Homo sapiens: one gene and its partners. The protein of the gene in region 1 purifies or fractionates together with the protein of each later gene. This does not show direct contact. Each region holds a gene or a part of one and is shown in the gene's direction. Other genes may lie near its edges.

Region 1 (2,953 bases):
CTGGGTGGCAAAAGCAAAACTCCATCTAAGAAAGAGAGAGAGACAGAGAGAGAGAGAGAGGGAGGGAGGGAGGCAGGGAGGGAGGAAGGAAGGAAGGAAAGAAGGAAGGAAGGAAATATAAGACGAAAGTTCAATGAAGACAGAAAATGTAATTGCGTGGATTTGGGAATAGAGGGGATGATTAAGTCCCTGAGGCTCAGTGGGATTGCCAGAAGAGAAACTAGAAAGACAGACATCATATATAGATTTAGAGAACATACTTAAACTTCAGAAGGAGTAAGAAGACACACAGGAAAAATATGGGACTATGTAAAGAAGTAAAATTCTATGATTTATAATTTACACAGAACAGACAATTTCTGACAGAAATTGTAGTGAAAGCATTCCATATAAACCCTTTTTTGTTTTAAGAAATATCTACTTGCAGAATTAGGTTTCTGAACCAGCCTTAATATTAGTGGAAACTAAAGACATTGGAGCCTACCTTCTGTCTGCTCAGATGTTGACATGTTAGCCAATAGGAATTTCTAAGGAGTATTCTACTTCTAATGAAGATGTTGTATTTTGTAGGAAAAGCTCAAGACTGTTATTTTATGAAGCTGCATCACTGTCCTGGAAATCACAGTTGGGATAGCACCATTTCTGGATCTCAAAGGGCTGCATTCTGTGATCACAAGACCACTCCATGCTCTTCAGCAATAATAAATCCACTCTCAACTGCAGGAAACTCAGGTAAATATTTACTGTGAAACACCTTGTAAGTGATGCCATTGACCTTACATATCTGTGTTCAGTGGATTTACCATACAATGAGGTTTGTCTTTATTTCCTCAATATGATAAATACATACCTTCTTAAGTAGGAAAACAAATCCCAGGAGATGGGAATGATGACATGGCCCAAATGGTATTCTATGAACATCTAAATAGGGAGGCAGTGCTAAGAGGAGGTATTAACATATTACTAATGGTAAAGTTATTTTTGTTTATTTAAAAAATTTGCAGGTATCTTTTATATTTGAAATAAAATGGACATCAAACAAAACTGAACAAATCCCAGAAGATGGAAATGATGACATAAAGTGGTTTTTGCCCCGTGATTTATACCATAGGAAAAGGCAATGCCTTTTCTGGGGAGTGAGGGGGAGATAACCCAAATCTCTGAATGTTTCCTGAAAAATGACACCATTCCCCAAAGTGTTGGTGTTCCATATTGGCACAATCATAGGAAAATTATGTTTTATGCTTTATTTATTTTTCATGGAATTTTACTTATTGCTATGTATCTGTCCTCACCTTTTAAATTATTCATTCCTTGTTCTTTTTCAGAACGTCTGCAGCCTGGTATAGCCCAGCAGTGGATCCAGAGCAAAAGGGAAGACATTGTGAACCAAATGACAGAAGCCTGCCTTAACCAGTCGCTAGATGCCCTTCTGTCCAGGGACTTGATCATGAAAGAGGACTATGAACTTGTTAGTACCAAGCCTACAAGGACCTCAAAAGTCAGACAATTACTAGACACTACTGACATCCAAGGAGAAGAATTTGCCAAAGTTATAGTACAAAAATTGAAAGATAACAAACAAATGGGTCTTCAGCCTTACCCGGAAATACTTGTGGTTTCTAGATCACCATCTTTAAATTTACTTCAAAATAAAAGCATGTAAGTGACTGTTTTTCAAGAAGAAATGTGTTTCATAAAAGGATATTTATATCTCTGTTGCTTTGACTTTTTTTATATAAAATCCGTGAGTATTAAAGCTTTATTGAAGGTTCTTTGGGTAAATATTAGTCTCCCTCCATGACACTGCAGTATTTTTTTTAATTAATACAAGTAAAAAGTTTGAATTTTGCTACATAGTTCAATTTTTATGTCTCTTTTGTTAACAGAAACCACTTTTAAAGGATAGTAATTATTCTTGTTTATAACAGTGCCTTAAGGTATGATGTATTTCTGATGGAAGCCATTTTCACATTCATGTTCTTCATGGATTATTTGTTACTTGTCTAAGATGCAATTTGATTTTATGAAGTATATACCCTTTACCCACCAGAGACAGTACAGAATCCCTGCCCTAAAATCCCAGGCTTAATTGCCCTACAAAGGGTTATTAATTTAAAACTCCATTATTAGGATTACATTTTAAAGTTTTATTTATGAATTCCCTTTAAAAATGATATTTCAAAGGTAAAACAATACAATATAAAGAAAAAAATAAATATATTAATACCGGCTTCCTGTCCCCATTTTTAACCTCAGCCTTCCCTACTGTCACCAACAACCAAGCTAAATAAAGTCAACAGCCTGATGTGTATCTTTCTGTCCCTTTCTTCCTGCTTATATTTAGAACATATGCTCATTTGAGAAAGGATCTTTCTGCATATTATTATTATAATTATACATCATACTGCAACCTGCTTTTTGCATTTAATAGTACAGCCTTCCAGATCAGATATGGCTCTAACTTACTCTTTTTACTTGCTGCCTAATACCCACAGTTTTTATTTTCTTAACTTGTCCATATCAAATTTAGCCCAAACAATAAAAGTACGGTGTGAGCACTTTTTTGGTTAATAGGTTATATTACTATAGGAGAACTTACAAGGAATAATAGCCCTTTTCTGAAACTGCGTAGCGAAGTCAGCAGAAAGTGAGATACAGAATAAATTTGAAAAGATGAACTTTCAAGAAGCAACAGACCCACAACCTGAAAAGTTTGAATAAAAGAAATTAGATGCCATTGAGGTAATTAAATATTAATTAGAAATATAAGCATTTTAATCTCCATTTTAGAGCTTGACATTAACTTGTACCTCTTACTGTGCCTTTCAGAAATATGGAAATTAATAGGGAAAAGTGAAAACTAAACACATGAGTTATCTATTAAATTTTAAAAAGCATTAAGATGCAAATTTTATTTGTGAAGTAATAAATAGAGAAAATTATTTTGGAA
Region 2 (3,701 bases), on another chromosome or scaffold:
AATCTTTGTGGGCTCTTTTTTTACCCAACTCTCAAGGTTTGGAACTGTAAACTTTTTTTATTTTCTTTCTGCCTAGGTGACTCATCTATAATTTCATGCACAGTTCATATCTATATGTCCTGATGACTCTCAAATTTATGTTTTCAGTCCAGACTTCTCTTCTGAGTCTCCAGAGTCACATATCCAATAGTCTCTTTGACATCTCTGTTTTAACATTTCAAACTTAACATGTGCACTGTGGAACTCAGTTCCTCTCCCTGTTTTACTTCCAACCAATTTTCTACAACTGTGTTTTTTCCTTTCCATTGCTTAAGCCAGAAATCCTGATTCCTGTCTTTCAACAAGTGTTGTTGATACTCTTCCCCAAAATTGTCTTGAATTGGTCCACTCCTCTCCGTCTCTGCTGCCACAAACCTAGTCCATGCCATCATCAGTTCTTGCCAGGATTGCCATAGCTCTTTCCTAATCAGTGTCTCAGCTTCCCCTTTTGCCTCCATTGAGTCCATTTTTGGTACCATGGCAAGGTATGAATGTAAATTGAAATATATCACTTCTTTATTTGAAACACTTTTATGACTTCTTATTACATTTAGTAATTCCTTATTATGACCTGGTCTTTTATTATGACCTTATTATGATTCCTTTCCAGCCTCATCCTGTTCCCTCTCTACCTCCCCACTTGCTTGCAACTCTTCAGCCAGTGGTCTTTTTAAAGTTCTTTGAGCCCACCTTTCCCCCACCTGCCTCTTTTATGCCTAGAATGCTCTTACCCCAGTTTCTATAGAGGCGGCGTCTTCTCATCATTTAGGCCTTGATGTAACTACCATCTCCTTCTCGGACCATTTTATCTAAAGTATATACTACCATTGCTTTTCCATTTCAACCATTTGTTTGTTTCTTTCATAGCACTTACTAGAGTTCGGATTATTTTATGCATTTATTTTCTTCTATTTGGTCCATCTTCCCCATTAAGGTCTTTGGGGACAGAAACTTTGATTCTCTCATTCCCTACTGGATTCTCAGCACCTAGCACAATACCTGGTGCACAGTTGGTATGCAGCAAGTATTTGTTGAATGAATAAATGAAAAGTGTGAGTCTCACTATGTTCAGTTTTATATGTTTACATGTTTTCTTTTGAGATATTAGCATATCTAGTTTTCTAAATCCAGATCATCCTATATAAAGAAATTCAAGAGAGATGCAAGCTTTGTTAGTGAGAGAGATTAAGATTGCAGACTGAAGAGCATAAATAACAGTAATATCCCCATCTCAAATTCTAACTTTCAACTCCAGTTTTGCTCCCTACGTCACACCTTGGATATGAATTCACATGATCTACATCAGTGCGATGGCTAGGAAAGTATATATTTTTGAAGCAAATGGAGTAACTAGTTAATGTCAGTCACTCTGTTGTTTTATTAGTGATTCACATTCTTCCATGATCCCATAGTTTATATTCGGCTTTTCAACTCTTTCACTTTTCTCCTGCCAAGCATTTTATGTCTCACCCTATCCTTAACATACACACACACACACACACACACACACACACCCCTACCTGTTTTACAGATACTATCCAGTTTTATCATAGAATTGTGTCTCACCCTATCCTTAACACACACACACACACACACACACACACACACACACACACACCCCTACCTGTTTTACAGATACTATCCAATTTTATTATCATAGAATTGTGAATGACCCCTAAACTTTAGTCTGGTCACATAATACCACTTGATTTTCGCCTCAATTACCCCGTTACTGTGTTACTACCTCTGTACCAGCAGCATTGTGCATGTCTTAAGCTCATTGAAGATATGATGAACCATGTGTTATTGTATCGCTTATTCCAAATTAATTGCTCAATAAATGGTGATTAGACAAATGTGAATTACCATCCTGTCTCTGTAGAAAATCAGAAAATGACATTTCATGTAAAATAAGGTTTTGTATTTTATACTTTATCTTGCAGTATATTCTGTTTACTATATTTTTGTTTCCATGAAAAGTTAACACTAATGATGATTTTCTTATAGCAAACTTCTTAGGAATTTAAGATACAAGGAAACAAATTTTGTGCATCCATGTTTCAGATATGATCATTCTGTTTCAAATGACAAAGCCCTGATGGTGCTAACTGAAGAACCATTGCTTTACATTCCTCCACCTCCTTGTCAGCCCCTAATTAACACAACAGAGTCTCTCAGGTGAGTGTTGTAGATTATTGCAGAAACATCTGAGTTGGTTCCCATGTTTAGTTTTGGAACCTAGACAAGTAATTGGTCAAGTTCACTAAGTGACTGAGAGAATCTCTGAATTATTTGTGGATAACTGTAGGCATATTAGTTGTCCAGTTTCTCCACCAACCTCATGGAGATGGTGATGGGTCTATTTTATGTGATAGTTGCTTACTTAAATATGTCTTCTTTAAAAACTACAGAATGAAATTAATATTAAAATTTCATGGTGTTAGGCTTACAGTTGGTAACATTCATAGCAGAAAGTACCTTTTTCTTCCAATTAGGAAGATAATAATTTGTGGGTATGTGATTCTGGAGATACTTTACCGTTAGTACACACTTCTTTATCAATTTTTCCCTTGAATTTTTTTTTCCTGTGATTTTGGACCTTACCCTTAAAACCTCAAAAACTACCTCAGATTTTTTGTGATATGTAGTAATCAACTACAGTTAAACATAGTTTAACATCTTCACAGCTGCTGTAAAAAGTAAGCAAAATAAGGGAAGTTATATATGAGCTATGCTTTTATTTCGTGTGTTGAAAAATTTGAATTTTTTTTTACCCCAGGCAATTGAGTTCATTCTTTTTCTTCTCCCAAAAGAGCATGATTTTCAAGAGGTTTTAATGCATCTATTTGTTGTTAGGGGTCCTATGACTTGTTAAGTTCTCTACAATGTGTCTCAAATGTTTGTGTTTATATAGCCCAAGAACAGAAATAGGAAATACTTTTTATTTTGTTTTGTTTTATTTTATTTTATTTTTAGACAGGGTCTTGCTCTGTTGCTCAGGCTGGTGTGCAGTGGCTGGATCATAGCTCACCGCTTCCCCAAACTCCCAGGCTCAAGTGATCCTCTTGCCTTCGCCTCCTGAGTAGCTGGGACTACAGGCACATGCCACCATGCCCAGTTAATTTTTTAAAAAAATTTTCTGTAGAGACAGGGTCTCACTGTGTTGCGCAGGCTGATCTCAAACTCCTGGGCTCAAGCAGTCTTCCCACCCCAGCCTCCCAAAGTGCTAGGATTACAGGTGTAAGCCACTGTGCCTGGCAAGGAAATACTTTTTTTGGTGGAAAAACCTTAGCATCCAGTGTTTATATTTGGGAGGTATTTAGCTGTAGTTTTCTTTGAAGTTTGAATGCATGGTTGACAGGTTTACCATGTAAAAATGCATGTCTTATTAAAAACAACGTTAAGTGTCAACTTTTTCAAATCAAAAAGCAATATTGAGTCATCAGGCACTTGGAATGCTCTTTGGAACCTACAAATGATTAGATTCATTTCCACCCACAGGGTGAAACATCCATTTCTATGTTTAATTAATTTCTATGTTTAATTAATTAAACTATATTTTATAGGTTAAATCATGAACTTCGAGGATGGGTTCATAGACATGAAGTAGAAAGGACCAAGTCAAGAAGAATGACAAATAATCAACAGAAAACCCGTATTCT
Region 3 (3,701 bases), on another chromosome or scaffold:
AGAGAGTGCCCCACAACACCCCTGTGGGTAAGAATGTCACTCATTTCATCTTGTTCGTCTTACTAATAGGCACAAAAGTACCACAGCCTAGACACTGGTAGTGTTTTATTCTGAGGAAATGGCAAGGATTTCTCCCACAGTAGGATAGTAAAGCAGCAATCATGGATCCGTTTTTCTTCTTTCCTGTCCTTTGTCAAAAGTAACAACATGCTGGGCATGGTGGCTCGTGTCTATAATCCCAGCTCTTTGGGAGGCCAAGGCAGGAGGATCACTTGAGGCCAGGGTTTGAGACCAGCCTGGGCAACATGGTGAAACCCCCATCTCTACAAAAATTACTTTTAAAAATTAGCTGGGTGTGGCCAGGCACGGTGGCTCACGCCTGTAATCCCAGCACTTTGGGAGGCTGAGACGGGCAGATCACCTGAGGTCGGGAGTTTGAGACCAGCCTGACCAACATGGAGAAACCCCTTCTCTACTAAAAATACAAAATTAGCTGGGCATGGTGGCACATGCCTGTAATCCGAACTACTCGGGAGGCTGAGGCGGGAGAATTGCTTGAACCCAGAAGGCGGAGGTTGTGGTGAGCTGAGATTGCACCATTGCACTCCAGCCAGGACAACAAGAGCAAAACTCCGTCTCAAAAAAAAAAAAAAAAAAAATTAGCTTGGCATGGTGGCCTGCACCTGTGGTCCCAGCTACCAGGGAGACTGAAGTGGGAGAATCTCCTGATCCCAGGAGGCAGAGGCTGCAGTGAGCCAGGATTGTGCCATTGCTCTCCAGCCTGGATGACAGAGTGAAACCCAATCTCAAAAAACAAACAAAAAAAAGAGGCTGGGCACGGTAGCTCACGCCTGTAATCCCAGCACTTTGGGAGGCCAAGGCTGGTGGATCACAAGGTCAGAAGTTCAAGACCAGCCTGGCCAAGATGGTGAAACCCCATCTCTACTAAAAATACAAAAATTAGCCAGGCATGGTGGCAGGTGCCTGTAATCCCAGCTACTCGGGAGGCTGAGGCAGAGAGTTGCTTGAACCTGGGAGGCGGAGGTTGCAGTGAGCCGAGATTGTGCCACTGCATTCTAGCCTGGGTGACAGAGCAAGACTGCATCTCAAAAAAAAAAAAAAAAGCAATAAAACAAGTTCGTGCAAGGCTTTTCCACTATAAAGGAATCCTCTTCTCTTTTTTCCCTCTAGATACTTGTGTCCTTTTGTTCCTTTATGTTCATGGTTTTGTGTCTTGGCCACAGCTTTCCAGGCTAAATAACTGTGATTCTTCCTGCATTGATTGATCTGAGATATTTTGCTTACTTATTGGTCTGGAGAAATTTTTTGTAACAGACCTCAAAGCATATCTTGGTTTATTTTAGCCCTGCGGGAGGCAAGAAGCCTACAAACTGCTACTTCTGGACACTGACTGTTGATGATATGATGCTTTCTCTTGATTGATGGTTCTCCTGTCTTCATTCTCCAGATGTGACTCCCTGCATGTCTCCTCTGCCACATGACAGTCCTTTAATAGAGAAGCCAGGCTTGGGGCAGATAGAGGAAGAGAATGAAGGGGCAGGATTTAAAGCACTTCCTGGTAAGGGATTAAACATTTGTAAAGTATTTGCATCCTCCCTTTCCATATCATACCCTATTTTACAGCTATCCCCTACTGACCCTACCTTAGCATGTAAATGGGCTTGCTTTCTGTAGCATCTCATGTTTTGAAGTCTCCTCACCTTCACATGGCACAGATAGCAGCTATTCCTTGGTTTAGTTTTAGCATGGGTAATGACTGGTGAATGTTCTTCAGCACTTTAAACACCAAGTGCAGACAAAGTTTAGATAGCAGCTATTCCTTGGTTTAGTTTTAGCATGGGTAATGACTGGTGAATGTTCCTCAGCACTTTAAACACCCAGTGCAGATAAGGTTCGTGTGTCTTTCAGATTCTATGGTGTCAGTAAAGAGGAAGGCTGAGAACATTGCTTCTGTGGAGGAAGCAGAAGAAGACCTGAGTGGGACCCAGTTTGTGTGTGAGACAGTAATCCGATCCCTTACCTTGGATGCTGCCCCAGACCACAACCCTCCTTGCAGACAGAAGTCCTTGCAGAGTGAGTGTCCTTGCATTTCCCCTACCTAGCAGGGTGGCACCTGAATTGTGACTGCCAGACTTGACTAGTTAGATGTGCTCTTCTTCACTGAGACTGAAGGGAGAGTGATCTTAGTTAGAAGTTCTGATCTTGGCGGGGCGTGGTGGCTCAAGCCTGTAATCCCAGCACTTTGGGAGGCCAAGGCAGGCGGATCACAAGGTCAGGAGATCAAGTCCATCCTGGCTAACATGGTGAAATCCCATCTCTACTAAAAATACAAAAAATTAGCCTGGCGACGTGGCGGGTGCCTGTAGTCCCAGCTACTCGGGAGGCTGAGGCAGGAGAATGGCATGAACCCGGGAGGCGGAGCTTGCAGTGAGCCAAGATTGCGCCACTGCACTCTAGCCTGGGCGACAAAGCGAGACTCCATCTCAAAAAAAAAAAAAGAAATTCTGATCTTGTTTGTGTCTTTAGACTCTACGTATGCTACCTGACTGTTCTAATTAGAGCATCAGGAGTAAAGAAGCCATCATACTCATTTCTCCATCTTCTCAGGGGCAGAATTACAGCTGCATTCCACAGTGGAATAGCAGCCAGTTGTGCTGCCTGGATTCTGCAGTAAGGAATCTTCCTGTAATTTGACAGAGCTCCTTAGCAGAGACCCCTATGGGTAGCTGAGTTGTCTGCTTTCTCCAAGGGCAGCAGTCCCAGAAACAGTGGATAGAAGCAGGAGTACCAACAAAGTTTCTCAAGGTTAAATTCTGCTGTAATAAATACCTTTATAGGCCGGGCACAGTGGCTCACCCTTGTAATCCTAGCACTTTATGAGGCTGAGGCGGGTGGATCACCTGAGGTTGGGAGTTCGAGACCAGCCTGACCGACATGGAGAAACCCCATCTCTACTAAAAATACTAAAAATTAGCCAGGTGTGGTGGCTACATGCCAAGGATTACATGCCTGTAATCCCAGGTACTTGGGAGGCTGAGGCAGGAGAATCACTTTAACCCGGGAGGCGAAGGCTGTGGTTAGCCGAGATGGCGCCATTGCACTCCAGCCTGGCAACAAGAGTGAAACTCCGTCTCAAAAAAAAAAAAAGGAATAAATACCTTTATAACAGAAACTTCTAGGTATCAGATAGATAGAACCAATAGCATATATTTTAAGAAGTATCCAAAAATTCAAATATACTATGTCAAAATAATATTGGAGAATCTCTTTATTATAATCAAATTTGACCTATATCTTTAAATATTATTTATCTTACTTTTGTTTAAAGTATACATGTAAGGCCAGGCGCAGTGGCTCACGCCTGTAATCCCAGCACTTTGTGAGGCCGAGGCGGACAGATCACAAGCTCAGGAGTTTGAGACCAGCCTGACCAACATGGAGAAACCCCATTTCTACTAAAAATACAAAAATTAGCTGGGCGTGGTAGCGTGTGCCTGTGATCCAGCTACTCAAGACGCTGAGGCAGGAGAACTGCTTGAACCCGGGAAGCCAAGGTTGCAGTGAGCTGAGATCGCACCACTGCACTCCAGCCTGGGTGACAGAGCGAGACTCCGTCTAAAAAAAAAAAATAATAAAGTGTACATGTGGCCAGGTGCGGTGGCTCATACCTGTAATCCCAG
Region 4 (3,701 bases), on another chromosome or scaffold:
GCCCAGCACGTGGCTCTGAAAGCAGGCTTGTGGGGCAGTGCTTTTCCCCTTGGGTCCAGGCAGAGTGCAGCTTGGTGGGCACCGTACTGAGAAGTGACCATCATGCTCTCCTGGGGTCTGACTGGGGCCTTGGCCAGAGGGAAGCCCCCAGAATGTAAGCTCCTCGAGGACAGGAGTGCTTGACTGCTGCATTCACTACTGTGTCCCTGCCTCCTAGGGAGGACGCTGCCTGGCCCAACCATTCAGATGGATCGGGTTGGGAAGAGTTTAATGCTGTCTTCCATGTTGTAGCATATGGATTGGTCACTGTGTCCATGGACATAATGTGAAAATTCTCAAGTCCATATGTCTTCCAGGGACTTGTGAAAACTAACCAGGTCATTTTGATCGCAAAATATAGAACAGGAATAAAACCCACACAAAGGGACCTTCACCCACCAAGGGACAGGATTTAAATGCTTAGTATCTCCAGGTCATATGTCTCTCGAACACACCTGGCTTCCACTCAGGTCATTTAGCCGTAACAGCTTTGCAGCTCAGACACGTGTGTTCCCAGTGTACCCAAGTTGACAATCTAACCTCTCCACAGCTTCTCTCTGACAATTGTAAATTAGGAGTTCAGCCAGTCTGGCTTCATCTTCATCATAGAAAAGGCTGCTCTGAGAAAAGGGTCTCCTAAGGCTACTTAACATTGATGTAGACAGGGCTCACCACTCCCTGTGTCCTCAGCTGTCGACCTGTCTTACTGGTGGGACTTCAAGAGGCCATACTTGGGTGCTTCCTGACCCTCTCCTTATTACCAAAGTCAAATGCAGAGCAAGGTTTGAATCCCAACAGGAGCCTCTGGAGCCCATACTCTTGCCACCAAGTTTCCTCTTTGAGAAGAAGGCCCAGCTTCACAGGTCTTTTCTACTGGTGGAGGGAAGAGTGGCGACCCTCCACCAGTTATGGGCTTGAGCATACCCTGTTTCAGTGAGTAGACAAAGCACGGGATGCACATCAAATCTGAGCTTTCCTTTTCTTTTTGGTTTTGGTTCATTGGATATAGATTGCACTTGCGGCTCCGTACACATGGCGTGTGTGTGCACATGTGAAATTCAGGGTATGCGTTCGTGGTCTATATGCAGGTGTACTCTGTGACACCTCTCTGACATGGGAGAAGCTCTCTGTGGGCCTGTGCTTCGTGAGGAACAGAGCAGCTCACAGGGAAAGTCATGGATGAGGGAGGGAGGGGGCAGGGTGCCTGCTGCCCAGCTCTGGGGCAGGCTTATGTGTCAGTGATGATCTGTTACTGAGTCCCAGTCGCACAGCTCTCAGCATCTCCAGCACTGACCATCATCTGCTGCCCTTGTTTCTCTCACAGGACGTGAGCGACAGAATAGAAAAGGAATCCCTGGATGGCCCGATCGTGAAGCAGTTAGAGAGAGGCGGGAGAGCCGTGGTGAAGATGGACTGGCGGGAGAACATCACTGTCCCCCTCCAGACAGGTGATCATGCTGCAGCGTGTGAGAGGGCAGGTTGCAAAAGTCGCTGCCGCCTTTCCAAAAAGTAAACGTGGAAATGGCCGCTCCAGGCTGTTCAGGCCCCACATCCCACCTGTCAGGTTTGAGACTTTCTTGGGTGTGTCCTCTGTGGTTTGGTTACACTGATGTGTGTTTCATTTTTGTTCCCTAGAGTGACAGGTGAGTGATGGTGTCGTGCTCTAGGTGGTCATTTCTGACCTGGGTGTGATCACCAGGTGGGGTTCAGGGGGATACCACCCTTGGGTTGGATGGGAGGATCTGCTCCCATGCCTAGGTGTGGAGTGACCTCACCTTTCAGTCCAACTCCCTAATCCCAGGACCCCATGAATTGTTTTCTTTTAAAATGTATTAGTTTTAAATTTGATTACCCATTGCTTCCCTCAATGTTTTTCTAGACCTGCGTAAATTCAGGACCTATAAAGGTGGTTCTGTCAGAGATCTCCTCCGAGCCATGAGAAATAAGGTAAGCAGTTTGTAAATGCTGGGGAGGAGACCCAGTGGCCATGACATGGACACCTTCCTCCTTTCATCCATTCTTTATAAATCTTTTATCTGTACTGGCATTCTCATCTCTCAGGAGCTAGGCGGCTTCAGCTGGACTTGGCAAACTGCAGGCTGTTGCCTCTCTTACGCTGATTTTCCCTTCAGGGACGTAGGTGCAGGTGAAGCTCCGGGAAGCAGTGCTCTGCGGCCCATGTCCCTCATGGTCTCTGGTCGCTGACTTTTGTGGGGCCCTCTCCCTGTCTGATGCAGCCACTGTGTGTAAACATGTATAAACATACCTCAAATGCGGGGACCCCACTGGGACGGACACTCCAATCTCAGGCGACTTTACTCCTCCTGAGGTGGCCAGGAGTGTCTCCAGGTCCTGACTGTCACAGAAGGCCTGAGCACCCCCTGGACTGGCTGGGCCTTGCTCACTTCAAGGCCTCCTCCTGAGTGAGGGTAGCAGGCGAGATGACGGGGCTGGATTCTTGGATACATAAGCCTTTTTTCTTTTTCTTTACCAAAAACCAACACTCACATTCTGTCTCTTCCTTGCATGATGAAAGGGTGTTTTGCCAACATTTCCCGAGCTTTCTAACCCCTTTCTAATCTCCCGAGCTTTCTAACTCTTTGCAGAAGCACCACTACCGGGAGCTGCCTGCAGAGGTGCGGGAGACGCTGGGGTCCCTCCCCGACGACTTCGTGTGCTACTTCACATCTCGCTTCCCCCACCTCCTCGCACACACCTACCGGGCCATGGAGCTGTGCAGCCACGAGAGACTCTTCCAGCCCTACTACTTCCACGAGCCCCCAGAGCCCCAGCCCCCAGTGACTCCAGACGCCCTCTGAGCGAGGGCGGCCCCTCTGTTCTGGTGGCCCCAGCTGTGACTGAGGGCCTGGTCACCACAATTAGAGCTTGATGCCTCCCGGCTTTGCAGGGAGACCAGGCTTCCCAAACCAAGTGCCTTGAGCTGCCTGCTCTGCAGCCCACAGAGGACAGTGCTGACCCCAGGAAGTGGGAGAAGTGGCCCCTCGTGACCTACAGGGAACTGGGAAGATGCTGGCCCCAAAAGCCTTACGGTCATGATGTCTGCAAAGGAGGGCCTCAGAGACAGCGCGAGTAGCACCCCCAGCCATCTACTGGATAAACTTGCTTCAGACTTTTTAAATTCCTGCTTAATGTCAGTCTACAGGCCTTTCAGGAAGGGAGAGGAGGGAATCGTACATTTTGCTTGCGTGCTGGGACAGCTAGGCTGAGATGCACCAAGTACAGCCTTCACTGGAGACCGGAATTGAGAGGTGGGGGATGCTGAGGAGGGGGAGGACGGAGTTCAGAGGGTGTCGTCCTGCAGTGTGAGATTTCTCATTGATCACAGATGTGCCCAGAGTAGCCCAGGTCACTGTTAACTAGTGTTTCTGCAGAGGCAGCAGGAGCCATGAGCATGAGGTGTGGCATTAGGGACTGGTCAGCTATGCATGCTGGCAGGTGGGGTTGTGTCTGCAGGTCTCAGAAATGAAGAGGCTGCTCTGTTCTGGAGGCAGCCGTGGCCCAGTGCCAGTGGCCAGAACAGTGGCCTTTGGTGGGTGTGTCCCGGGCCATCTCGGGGTGGTGCTCAGGAGCGCCTGGGGCAAGAGGTAAAGAGTTCCCTGGCCTTCAAGGAGAGCAGCGAAGACCCAGACAGGGGCCAGCCT

Evidence for each region. The genes of interacting proteins can lie anywhere in the genome.
Region 2: the proteins of RIPK2 (region 1) and ATF6 purify together in Homo sapiens (affinity purification with western blotting; one study listed by BioGRID). This does not show direct contact.
Region 3: the proteins of RIPK2 (region 1) and NBR1 purify together in Homo sapiens (affinity purification with western blotting, with the first as the bait; one study listed by BioGRID). This does not show direct contact.
Region 4: the proteins of RIPK2 (region 1) and ERN1 purify together in Homo sapiens (affinity purification with western blotting, with the first as the bait; one study listed by BioGRID). This does not show direct contact.

Annotation. Positions count from the first base shown.
Region 1 is NC_000008.11:89,788,751-89,791,703, forward strand, and holds the end of RIPK2 (receptor-interacting serine/threonine-protein kinase 2), read left to right. Parts: intron 1-570; coding exon 571-732; intron 733-1,328; coding exon 1,329-1,666; 3' UTR 1,667-2,314; downstream 2,315-2,953.
Region 2 is NC_000001.11:161,849,619-161,853,319, forward strand, and holds part of ATF6 (cyclic AMP-dependent transcription factor ATF-6 alpha), read left to right. Parts: intron 1-2,046; coding exon of another isoform or gene 2,047-2,103; coding exon 2,104-2,217; intron 2,218-3,605; coding exon 3,606-3,701.
Region 3 is NC_000017.11:43,195,013-43,198,713, forward strand, and holds part of NBR1 (next to BRCA1 gene 1 protein), read left to right. Parts: coding exon 1-27; intron 28-1,468; coding exon 1,469-1,579; intron 1,580-1,929; coding exon 1,930-2,094; intron 2,095-3,701. UniProt on the Homo sapiens protein: Ubiquitin-binding autophagy adapter that participates in different processes including host defense or intracellular homeostasis.
Region 4 is NC_000017.11:64,043,145-64,046,845, reverse strand, and holds part of ERN1 (serine/threonine-protein kinase/endoribonuclease IRE1 precursor), read left to right. Parts: intron 1-1,363; coding exon 1,364-1,487; intron 1,488-1,918; coding exon 1,919-1,986; intron 1,987-2,645; coding exon 2,646-2,858; 3' UTR 2,859-3,701. UniProt on the Homo sapiens protein: Serine/threonine-protein kinase and endoribonuclease that acts as a key sensor for the endoplasmic reticulum unfolded protein response (UPR).